Linked DNA regions of Homo sapiens. The protein of the gene in region 2 interacts with the protein of the main gene of each other region in a pairwise test. Each region holds a gene or a part of one and is shown on either strand. Other genes may lie near its edges.

Region 1 (4,092 bases), on a different chromosome or scaffold from region 2:
ATGGTGCAAAAATGCGCTGCTACAGAGCCAGAGGCACAGCACAACACAGCAAGGTGGAGGGAAGCCAGAAAAGAAGTCTGTGCACCAGGGCAGGCGAGAAGAATGTACTTGCAGTGTTTGCCATGACGTTGTGAGCATAAAGACTCGCTTCTTTCCGTTATGTTTAGAGAGGAAATATGCACAACCAGCCTGAATCCTATACGTTTCCAATGAAAATAAACTTCCATCGCCAGTGCCAACAGGAATTTACACAGGGCCAGGAGAAGAGAGCTCACTCTAATTAGCCGCATCCTCGCGCCCTGAACGGACCCGCAGTGTGGAAGTCAGACAGCTCACTACGAATCGAATCGAATCGAATCGAGGAGTGTAAGTGTGCCTCGCTCCTGCGGACTAGAACGAGGTTTGGAGGTTTTTCCTTTTTCTTTGAAGACTTACTCAAGTTCATACTGAACGCTCCTTTTTTGCATGGGAATTCAGGCAGGAGGCACTTCTAAAAACTACTCACTCTATCCCCACATACCCATAATAAAGCGGTGCCTCACTCAAAACGGCTGTAGGGAACACAGGGAAAATGACAAGGGTGACGGAGACCTGCATTCACAGGCAAAAGGCTCCAAGACAAAGAGGGGAAATGGGGTGGGGAGGGAACTACAGGTGGGGTGAGGCTAGAGACAGGCAGGAAGGGCAGGTTGGCCCTGTGACCAGGGGTTTCACAGGGCAGCCCCAGGCTGGGCAGAGGCCCCCAGGTCGGAAGGCAGAGGGCTCGGCTCCCAGGCCACCTGCTCGGTTGGGAAGTGAACTCCGCCTTCCCTCCTTGCGGCTGACGCCTCCCTGACCCACGGACCACACAAAGGAGCTGGTCCCCCTCCAGGTTTGAGCCACCCCCAGCCTGGGGGCAGTCTTGAGCCCGAGATGACAGGAGCTTGGGACAGCTCCAGCCTGGATTGGCTCTGAGCTCGGGCAGCTCCAGCCTGGGGTGACCCGGCCTCAAAAGCGAGTCACCAAGCTCTTGGGTTTCTTCTCACAGCTCTAAGTTACACCTTCCATCTTACCTGCCCCTCGCCTGGCAAGGGTTCACAACCATCTAACTTCCAACAAGGCTGGAGAGGTGCCCCTTTTGGTCTCGCGGAGGTCCCCTTTCCTTTCCCCTCTTCTAGAAAGATAAGAAGGCATCTCCCAGTCTCTGGGGGGAGGTATCTGTAGTTCTGTTCCTGCCAGTAGCAGGGTCTTCACTGCAGCTCCCACCCTGAGGCTGGAGGGCACAGAGGAGCTGGGGGAACGGAGAGAAGGGGATGAGAATGGCGGGGATGAGAATGGTGGGTGATGAGGGGGCAGGGGTGGGAGGGTTGAGTGGATAGAGAGGAGCACAGGTTGAGGGATGGACAAGTGGAGGGCGGAGGCAAAAACCCTCCTCTGAGCACGAAAAATTCCCTAGCTGCCAAAAAACATTCCCTAGCTGCCGGAGCCCACAGGTGGGAAGGAATGCAGGATCTCAGCCTTCTCCCACCTCCTCCGAGAGCCCAGGACGGGGATCAGACTCTAAGCTCCCCCCAGAGGCTGGCTGTTAGCTTTCCTGCCCCCCCCGCCCCCCGACATAAGAGCCCACCTCCTCTAGCCCTGGTTCCCGCCTCGCCACGGATCCGCCGCCCCTGCCGGCCTGAAGGGCAGAGGGGCCCCATCCCGCCCCCCGCGCTAGTGTCGCCAGGCGGCGCCCTTCCACGAGCAGAACGGCCGCGCGGGACGCTTCCCGGGGCAAGGCCGTCCCCTCCCAAGCCCCCAACCCCCGGGCAGCGGACCGCAGGCCGCCTTCGGGAAAGGCTGCGAGATGCTGAGCGCGCGTTTTAACCCAACAGGAAAGCCGGGCGGAGGGGGAAGGCGCTTGGCCCGGGACTGCACACTGGGACTCCCAGTGCAGTGCTCCCCGCGGGGTCCTGGCCGCCGACTCCCGCCCCTGTGCCCCAGCCCCACGGCGCCCGGGAGACTCACCTTCTCCCCGGTCAGCACGTGCAGCCCCTCGCGCACCTTGGCAAAGGAGCCCTCGCCCAGCTTCCTGCTGCCGATGAGGTAGTTGCCCACGCGCTTGTGGTGCTGGAAGTCGCGGAGCCGCTCGCGGGGCACGCCGCTCACCCAGGCAGGCAGGAAACTTCCCTCGCAGGCCGCCGCGGGCCTGGCCGCGTCCTCCGCGCCGCCGCCGCCCCCAGGCGCCGCCGGCTCCCCCAGGAGCCCGTCCCCCGCCGCCGCCGGCATCGCGCTCGCCGCGGCCCGCGCGGCTCCTGCTCGTCTCCCGCGCTCGCAGCTCCTCCTCCCCAGGCTCTTCGGCTTCCCCGGCTTCTCCCGCCGCCGCCCTGGGCCCAGCCCCGCCTGGGTCTCCGCACCCAGAGCCCGGGGCCGCCGCGATCACGCCCCCCGCGCCGCCCAGCGAGGCGCGTAGACAATAGCGGCTGCCCAGGGGACGCGGGACCGGGGACCCCGCCCCCAAAAGTTCTTCCTCTTAGGGTCGCCCGGGCCCCTTTCAGGACACCAGGATCCCGCCCCGGGTCCCGTCCAGGAAGCTAATGACAGTCGCCCTGCTCGGGCGCGCGGGGTGGGGCGCGGTCCGGCGGCGCCTGGGTCCCGGGGTCCGGGTGCCTGGGTCCGGGAGCCCGGGTGCCTCCGCAGCCTCCGCCTCGCCGCCGCCGTCTGGCCCGCACGGGCTTGGGTCGGGCTCCCGCGATCGCTCCTAGCCGTGCGCTGGGCGGCCGCTCCCGCCGGAGAGAAGCGCGCGGCGGGCTGCCGGCGCCCTCTGGAAGGCAGCAGAAGAAAGCCCCATTCAGTTTGAATTTGCAGAAATTTAATCCGCTCGCGGGCGGCGGGAACAGATGCGAGCTCCACTCCGCAGCCCGTGCACTTTCAAATCCCTAGTAGCCCCTCCTTCCCCGCGCGCCACAGTCAAACTCGACCCTCGCTGGAGAGGGGAGGGCCCGGGGAGGGGAGCGGCGGAGTGGACGGAGAAGCCACCTGAGCGCCAGACAGGGAGAACCTGCGCGGCCTCGGAGGCGCGCGCTCCCGGGCCGCCCAGGTCGGGCCGCCTCCGGCTGCGCCTCTTGCCCGGATTCTGGGCTTGGGTTTTCTGGACCTTTCGGCGGTGAAATCCCCCACTGGCCGCACCCACCCGGGGCGGGGGGAAGGGGGAAGGCTCTCGAACTCCGTGGACTGTGAGTCGGGTTGCGTGCCCGGCCCTGAGTCCGCCACACAGTAGGGCCCCCTGGACCGGGGGTGGAAGGATAGATGGATGGCTGGAAGAAAGGGTGGGGAGGCGGCCAGGCGTCTGCCCGGGCTCGCACGCAGCCTGGTTGGCTGTGTTGGAGGAGGCGCAGCCACAGCAGTAATAGTAGCAGCAGCAATGTAGGAACCAGGGCGTTTGCTGCCTCTGCTTGTAGCTTACACCTTCTTTGCCTTCCATTGAAATGATGCCTGTGATTGCAGGAGGTGGACCGGCGCTCGCCTCTCTTCGATGCTTTTGTTCTGCAAGCGCTGTGACTGTGCTCATCGCATAAACAATTGCAACTGCCCTGACGACACTGGACCCTCTCCCAGGATCCCCAACGTCTTCTCAAACCGAAAATGAAGAATCTTGTGAGGGAGAAGGAGGAGGGTAGGTAGGAGGAGGCATTTACAAAATGCTACCTGTTGAGGTGCCCGCATTTGATGGAAACTTCACCCCGATCATGCAACATCAGAGCTGAAAGGAAGGATTTGGTCCTAACAAAGTTCCTTTCATTGTTTATTCCTGAGTAAACAAGTATGACATCGACCCATAGCAATGCTTTGAGATTGGGAGTGGGGGGTGGGGGAACAACAGCTGTCATCAATCCAGTGTCTGGGGGTCTCGCTGACCCATCTGAAGAGGGACGCAGAGAAATGCCTGCTTTCAATACATCTAATTTTAAATACGCTACTATATTCATCCACCTACCTGTTACAAGTCACCAGCCTCAGTTATTATGACGGAACATACTGCGTTTTCTGTTGTTCTGTCTCATTGTTCCCGTTTACCAATATTAAAGATACAGCTTAAAATGTTTTTCTTGCTGTGCTGAAGGGACTTCTTTG
Region 2 (3,646 bases):
GAGCAGACAACCGGTCTGACTAAAATTTATTAGGCAGGAATTTCCTCATCCTAATAAGCCTGGGAGCGCTACGGGAGACCGGGGCTTATTTCATCCCTTATCTACAACTGTAAAAGACAGACGTCCCCAAAGCGGCCATTTCAGAGGCCTCCCCTTAGGGACGCATTCTCTTTCTCAGGGAAGTTCCTTGCTGAGAAAAAGAATTCAGCGATATTTCTCCTATTTGCTTTTGAAAGAAGAGAAATATGGCTCTGTTCCACCTGGCCCACAGGCAGCCAGACGTTAAGGTTATCTCCCTTGTTCCCTGGACATCACTGTTATCCTGTTTTTTTTCCAAGGTGCCCAGATTTCATATTGTTTAAACAATTTGTGCAGTTAATGCAATCATCACAAGGTCCTGTGGCAACATTCATCCTCAGCTTACAAAGATGATGGGATTAAGATATTAAAGTAAAGACGGGCATAGGAAATCACAAGAGTATTGATTGGGGAAGTGATAAGTGTCCATGAAATCTTCACAATTTATGTTCAGAGATTGCAGTAAAGGCAGGTGTAAGAAATTATAAAAGTATTAATTTGGGGAACTAGTGTCAATGAAATCTTCACAATCTATGTTCTTCTGCCATGGCTTCAGCCGGTCCCTCTGTTTGGGGTCCCTGACCTCCCGCAACACTTTGGCTCAATTCAGACATGTTCATCACCATACTACAAAGACCACTAAATCCATGCTTTTGTCTCAGCTCCAAAAATGTTCTCGCCAAGTGGGCCATGCCCACTCTGCTCACCACACAGTCATCAATGCCACAGAACCCAAGGAAAACCCCAGACAGCCCTTCGCTGCACAGCCAGGCAAGCAGCCAACAGGTGGAACCCACTGTATGCAGGGCAGAGGCCCCTGAGGCTCATGGAGGCCACACGGCTGGTCCCTTGAAGAAGTGGGCTGGTTCCGTGAAAGGAGCATTCTCTGCTCCGGTTCTAATCTCCCCTTCAAGGGCAGCCACCATCTCGTTTCTCTGCAATTCCCCAACCATTCCCCCACCCCCATCCGGAGCCAGACCCAGGGAGGTTACAATCTCTTTCCTTCTCATTCCGAGATTTCCTGATCTCTTAGACACCCCCACCAACTACTCAAACACAATACATGCCAAACAAGGCTCCAAAGCCTTCTCCTCCACCATGCTCCCCATCACAGAAGGGTCCCATGGTCCAGTGCCCAGGGTGGAGACCTCAGCATTGTCCTGGACTCTTCCCTCACCCTCATCCTGCAAACCAGCCAATACCAGCACCTGCCCCTCCATCCCCTACATATCTCTCTATCTGGTTGCCTCTCTGCACCTGCACTATCCTCACTACTGGCCAAGCCATGCCATCCCCCATCGAGATGATGGCCACAGCTCCTCACTGGTCCTCTTGCCTCTGGGCACAATTACTATGGCCCCACATCCCCCACCCTCTTTCTGCACCTGGAAAAAGGGGCTGAAAACACTCACTCAAAAGGTTACTCTGAAGATGAAATGAAATAAGGCTTAGAAAATGGGCAGTGTGCTGGAAAGGCTGTAGGTGATGAGTACCTTTTATTTTTCTTCTTTTTTGCACTTCTCTGTTCAGGCCCCGGGCTGGCGTTCCTGGCATACCCAGAGGCGGTGACCCAGCTGCCTATCTCCCCACTCTGGGCCATCCTCTTCTTCTCCATGCTGTTGATGCTGGGCATTGACAGCCAGGTGAGGGCGCCCCCCCCGCACCCCAGGAGCTCTCCATCCCCAGACTCCTCAGTCCCCGAGTAAACAGGGAGAGGAGGCAACTCTTAGGCTGCCAAGAAGATGACCAAAAATTCCAGGTCCCTAGAATGTTCCACTGCATGAAATTTCAGGAAACAGCTCAGCCACCTTCTCCATTTTCCAGAAGGGGAAACTGATGCCCAGAGGGGAGGGACTCTCCTGAGGTCACAAAGTGAGTCACAGGCAGAATCAGGCTGGACCCTGGGCTCTCCTGGCTCGGTGCTGCTGGGCCTCCCGTCCTTCCTTAGAGGGCCAGGCTTTGGGTGGGTTGGGGCTGGGGCTGCTGCAGGTGGCTGACCTCTGTTCCCACCTGAAGTTCTGCACTGTGGAGGGCTTCATCACAGCCCTGGTGGATGAGTACCCCAGGCTCCTCCGCAACCGCAGAGAGCTCTTCATTGCTGCTGTCTGCATCATCTCCTACCTGATCGGTCTCTCTAACATCACTCAGGTAAGCTCAGTAAGCACCTGGCACTCCCCCAGCACTGCCCAGGGCCATGCCCAGGGCCTCCTCTCCCCTCCTCTGTTGTATCCCACCTTTCCTGCCTTCATTGAGCATCATCTCTGTGCCAAGCTCTGGGCACATAACAGTGAGTCAGATGGGGTCCCTGCCCTCCAGAGGCTCCCAGGCTGGTGGAGACACAAACATTGAGCTAAGACATATAGGACAGAGCTAGAGAATGCAGCACCTAACTGGACTCGGAGCACCAGGGACTGCTTCTTGGAGGAGGGGATGTAGAAATTGAGCTTTGAAAGGCCCACAGAAGGCCTGGCATGGTGGCTCATGTCTATAATCCCAGCACTTTGGGAGGCAGAGGCCGGCGGATCACCTGAAGTCAGGAGTTTGAGACCAGCTTGGCCAATGTGGTGAAAACCCGTCTCTACTTAAAAAAATAAAATAAAGTAAATAAATAATACAAAAATTAGTCAGGCATTGGGGCAGGTGCCTGTAATCCCAGCTACTTGGGAGGCTGAGGTAGGAGAATTGCTTGAACCCGGGAGGCAGAGGTTGCAGTGAGCTGAGATCGCGCCATTGCACTCCAGCCTGGGCAACAAGAGCGAAAAACTCTGTCTCAAAAAAAAAAAAAAAAAAGAAAGAAAGAAAGAAAGACAGAAAAAGAAAAGAAAGGCCCACAGAAATTAGCCAGAAAGTCAAATTGGAGTTGAGCCTTTGAAGTTGACACTGCCCAAAGCTTTCTTTCATTCCCATTTTTCTTTTGTATTGACATGAATGAGAAATGCTCACATAGCTGGTGAATTGTGCAATAAATATAAACGACTCTAGCAACATGAGTTCAGCACTGCGGGTCTGATTTTTATAATCCACAAATCACCCCCACCCCCCCCCCACCAGATCCAAATGTAGTTCTGCTCCAGAGTTAGTATTCATTCATCCCTTCATTCATAGTTGTCAAATACCTACTATGGGCCTGGCATGACCCCAGAAATTTGGCAATTAATGTGGCAGATACTACCATGTCTGCTGTCTTGGAGCTTACATTTTGGTGGACAAGACTGACAGACAAATTAGATGATTTTGGAGAGTGTCAAGTGCCCTGGAGAAAAGAGGACAGCAGCACAGAGAATGGCCAGTAGCACAGGAGGGGCGCTCCCTCAGACAAGGTAGTCAAGGGAGGTCTCTCTCTCCAAGAAAGCGACAGTTGAGCTGAGACTTAAATGATGAGAAAGAGCCAGCCAGAGAAAGATCTGGGGAAAGAGAGCAGAGTAGGTGCAAAAGCCCTGAGGCATTTGAGGGACGAGGGAAGCCAGAGTGGTGGAGGCAGAGGGAGTGAGGCAGTGGGTGGGAGACGAAGAACCAGCCCATGCGGACCTTGCAGGCCAAGACATTTGGGTGGGATGGGATGGGATGG
Region 3 (3,646 bases), on a different chromosome or scaffold from region 2:
GGCAGCTCTCATGAGTCACTCCTGTGTCTGTCCAGGATCCCAGGCCATCCCGCCCTCACATTTCTGTAAAATGTGGAAGCTTAGTCTTGGAGATATAACAAGTTTTCCTTCTATGGTAATAAGAAAGCAAACCCAAAGACCTAATTGTTGGCAGAAGTCTGGCTTTCATCCTTTGGACAGTTCAGTTCACCTCAAAGAGATGTGGGACAGAAGGTAATGTCATCACAGTTCCAGAAGAGCTTGACAAAACATCCGTCTACACCTCCTCCCAGCTCCTCCCCCAGGTTGGAAGGCTTAGTTGACCCTGCCTCCCTCCTGCTCCTGCCGCCCTCCCTCCTGCTCCCACTGCTTGCTGAGGTTTACGCCCAGTGCATTTCATCCAAAGGGACCCAGATCCAGGTACAGAACACTTCCTCGCTGGTTCTCAAATTTAAGAATCCCAAGGAGTTATTTTATTCATCCTTCTCCATCTGCTGTCTCCCTCTTCACTTTCCTGGTATCATACACAAAGATTACTGCCCTTTCATTCACTAAAGAATTATCTTCTTATCCCTATTCTCCTCCTTTTCTTGTTCTTTATGCCACTTACGTATCAGAGAGGGCTATTGCTTTAGCCTTAAACAGTCTGGTTTTGAATCTTTGTCTCACACATGAAACGTGTGACCTTGTGCAAACCACTTACCTTTCTAAGCCTATGCTTCTTCCTCTGCAAAATGGAATAATAAGGGTTACTCTGAGGCAGGAGGATCGTTTGAAGCCAGGAGTTCAAGACCAGACTGGACAACAAAGCAAGGCCCTATATCTACAAAAAATTCTTTAAAAAATTAGTTGGGCATGCTGGCATGCACCTGTACTCCCAGCTGCTCGGGTGGCTGAAGCAGGAGGATCACTTGAGCCCAGGAGTTCAAGGCTGCTGTGAGCTATGATTGCACCACTGCACTCCAGCCTGGGTGACAGAGCAAGACCTCTCTCTAAAAATGAAAATAATAAATAAATAAATAAATAATAAACAAACAAAAAATGTAAAAACAAGGGTTCCTATTTCACAGAGTTGTTGCAGGATTGGGAGTTTAAATGAAGAACCTATGTCAAGTGCTGAGCACAGCGCCCTGCACACAGTAAGTGCACAATAAATGCTGGCCGTTATGATGATGAGGCCAGCAAAGGAGGGTCTGGTGAACAGGACCACTTCTCATTCTAGGGAAGCCTGGTACTAAGCCACTTTCCCATATCAAGAGTTCCTGGGAGTTGCTAGTGATGGTGCTGCCTGGGGTAGCAGGTAGGAGAGGAGGCAATGATGTAGCATGTAACAAAAATAATTTCATTTCTAATGTCTTTCTCCTGCTGGGCCACTTAGAACCCAAACAATAACAACAAGGAGGGGGTGGAAATGAGAAGGGCAGGCACGTTCTGAAGGAGACCAATAACAAATGAACAGGCGCCAGGACTCCCTTTGGCTCCCAGACATCTGCAGGGGATTATCGTTGGGGCCACAGCTGCAGTTCTGTGCTGAGCGACAGCTTCCTGGAAGGCAGGACTGCCCAGGCTAACTGCAGGCCTATTGATGGAGCTCCTGGGAGCCAGGTCTGCCTGACTTCCCTTACCGCCCTCTGTCTGGAAGCAAGCTGACATTACCCAGAGGGCTGCAGGGGAAACCAGAGGTTTTCCCTCCTTCCCCTCCCTGTCCCTTCAGACAGCAAAGAATTCCCTCATCTCCTACTGGAAAAAGTAAAAATCCTTACAGGTGACATCAGATTATGACAAAATTGCCCAAACTACACTAAGCTGATACCTATATTCAATGCATATTTAACATCAGCCTCTTTCAGGGCCTCCTAAGAGTCTACTTCTCCTCTGCTCTCACCTCTGTACACTGTCCCATACTCTCCCAAATGCCCCTAGGAGTTTCCAGGCTTCTGAGTTCAAAGCACTGCAGCAGCACAGTTTCTTCTATCCAGGGGAAGAGGGAGGCCTCAGACCCCAGTGTGTCATCTCTGACTCCTCCCTATACACTAGAGCCACCAGGGTCCTTGGCCCCTCTGCAGTGAAACACTCTCATGTATCCTAGGGAGAGAAGAGGCTGTGCCTTCCAAGGGCATCCCAGCTGCCAAGGGTATTGATTTAACCCATTTACCAGATTAAGGTGAAAGGAAAAAGAAAAGAAAAATCTGCAATTCTGAGGGCAAATTTCTCTCCTTTCTCTGGACCCAAATCAAAGAAAACCAAGTGGCTGAGTCTTATAGTTTTATTACTCCTCCATCCCCATGTGCTGACACTATAATCAAGCTATTTTCCAGGCCTGTACATTTAGATAATATGATTCTATTGTCAAAAAATAAGAAAGTTTTGCATCCATTTAAGTACAGAGGAAAGAAATCTCCAATTACATTGGTCATGGGAACAGGTGAGAGGCAAAAGTATATTAATATTAGATTCCAACACCATTAGAGTAATTTAAAAGGCCAGAGATAACATTAGTCTACTGCTCAAATTGGTAAATAAGCAATTTGTGCATCCTTAGTGGCTCCATGGTATATTCTGGAGAGCAGAAGGGCTTATACCTAATCCCAAGGTCCTTCCAAGGCCACAAAATGCCTTACTGGAGGTGAGAAGAGGGAAAATGGTGCTGGGGTTCAGCTAAGTAAGAGGCTACCTACAAAGGAGGGTGCCTGCTGAGAAGTTGAATCAACCTGTGTCCTTTCTGCTGCCCATGGTTTCCGAGTGTTTCCTATATGCAGGATGCTCCTCTGCTAAGCAGAGTACCTGGTAGGATGGAGAAGCTCCAGTTGCTGAGTCCAGTCCTGGTGTTCAGAAACTGGAAAATTCATTGGAAAAAGTTCTGTTTAGGAGAACTTTAATAAAAGAAGAAAGACCATTGTATTTCTGGACTAAGGAAACAGCTTCCCTGTTTGGAGTCAGGGGCATCTGGCATGACCTCTGAGGAGCCCAAGAAGATAACCTAAGAATCTAAAGTCCTATAAACTATATCCCAGGAAAATGCAAATGACTGGGCTGCTGTTCTAAGCTATTTTCAAGACCTCAACTCTTAGGTAACTGTAGCCTGCTGATATATAACTTGATTCTGGGAGATATTACAAATATGACTTAGGGTTCTGGCATTATAAAACCTCAACTTGATTCTTCTCTCTTCCTAGGTGTTGAGGCACCTTCACTGTTGGAGATTCATAGGTATTAAGCCACAAAGCGGGGAGAAGTGGTGGGTGCCAACACAGGATTGGCTCAAGGAAGTCTCATCATATCTGTCTCTCCTGGGCGATGTGCTCATATGTGTGCATGCACGTGTATGCAAACACACACAAACACATACACATACACACAGTGCTATCTTCACAGCCACACTTTTTTGTTAACACTAAAATGTAACTTTTACTTGCAGGGGAGATGGAAACCATTCTCTCCAGGCAGAGTCCCCACGTCTTTCCCCTTATACTTGTTTATTCAGAGAATGGTGACCCCAGACCAGTCCGGCTTCAGCAAGACAATCTCAGGAGTATGTGAGGCCATATTTCTAATGACCCTAAGTTCCCATTTGTTTCCCATAGTATCAAAGAAAGAACAGAAGCGTTTGTCTCAATTTCAGATTCTCCTATATCATTCTCAAGATAATTGCATTTTCTAGACAGAA

The links.
Region 1: the proteins of SLC6A1 (region 2) and HUNK interact in a two-hybrid assay, tested with the Homo sapiens proteins (one large-scale study listed by BioGRID and IntAct).
Region 3: the proteins of SLC6A1 (region 2) and DRD2 interact in a two-hybrid assay, tested with the Homo sapiens proteins (one large-scale study listed by BioGRID and IntAct).

The regions. Positions count from the first base shown.
Region 1 is NC_000021.9:31,871,830-31,875,921, reverse strand, and holds the start of HUNK (hormonally up-regulated neu tumor-associated kinase), read right to left. Parts: upstream 2,903-4,092; 5' UTR 2,248-2,902; coding exon 1,987-2,247; intron 1-1,986.
Region 2 is NC_000003.12:11,027,127-11,030,772, forward strand, and holds part of SLC6A1 (sodium- and chloride-dependent GABA transporter 1), read left to right. Parts: intron 1-1,608; coding exon 1,609-1,721; intron 1,722-2,094; coding exon 2,095-2,226; intron 2,227-3,646. UniProt on the Homo sapiens protein: Mediates transport of gamma-aminobutyric acid (GABA) together with sodium and chloride and is responsible for the reuptake of GABA from the synapse. The translocation of GABA, however, may also occur in the reverse direction leading to the release of GABA.
Region 3 is NC_000011.10:113,468,867-113,472,512, forward strand, and holds part of DRD2 (D(2) dopamine receptor), read right to left. Parts: intron 1-3,646. UniProt on the Homo sapiens protein: Dopamine receptor whose activity is mediated by G proteins which inhibit adenylyl cyclase. Positively regulates postnatal regression of retinal hyaloid vessels via suppression of VEGFR2/KDR activity, downstream of OPN5.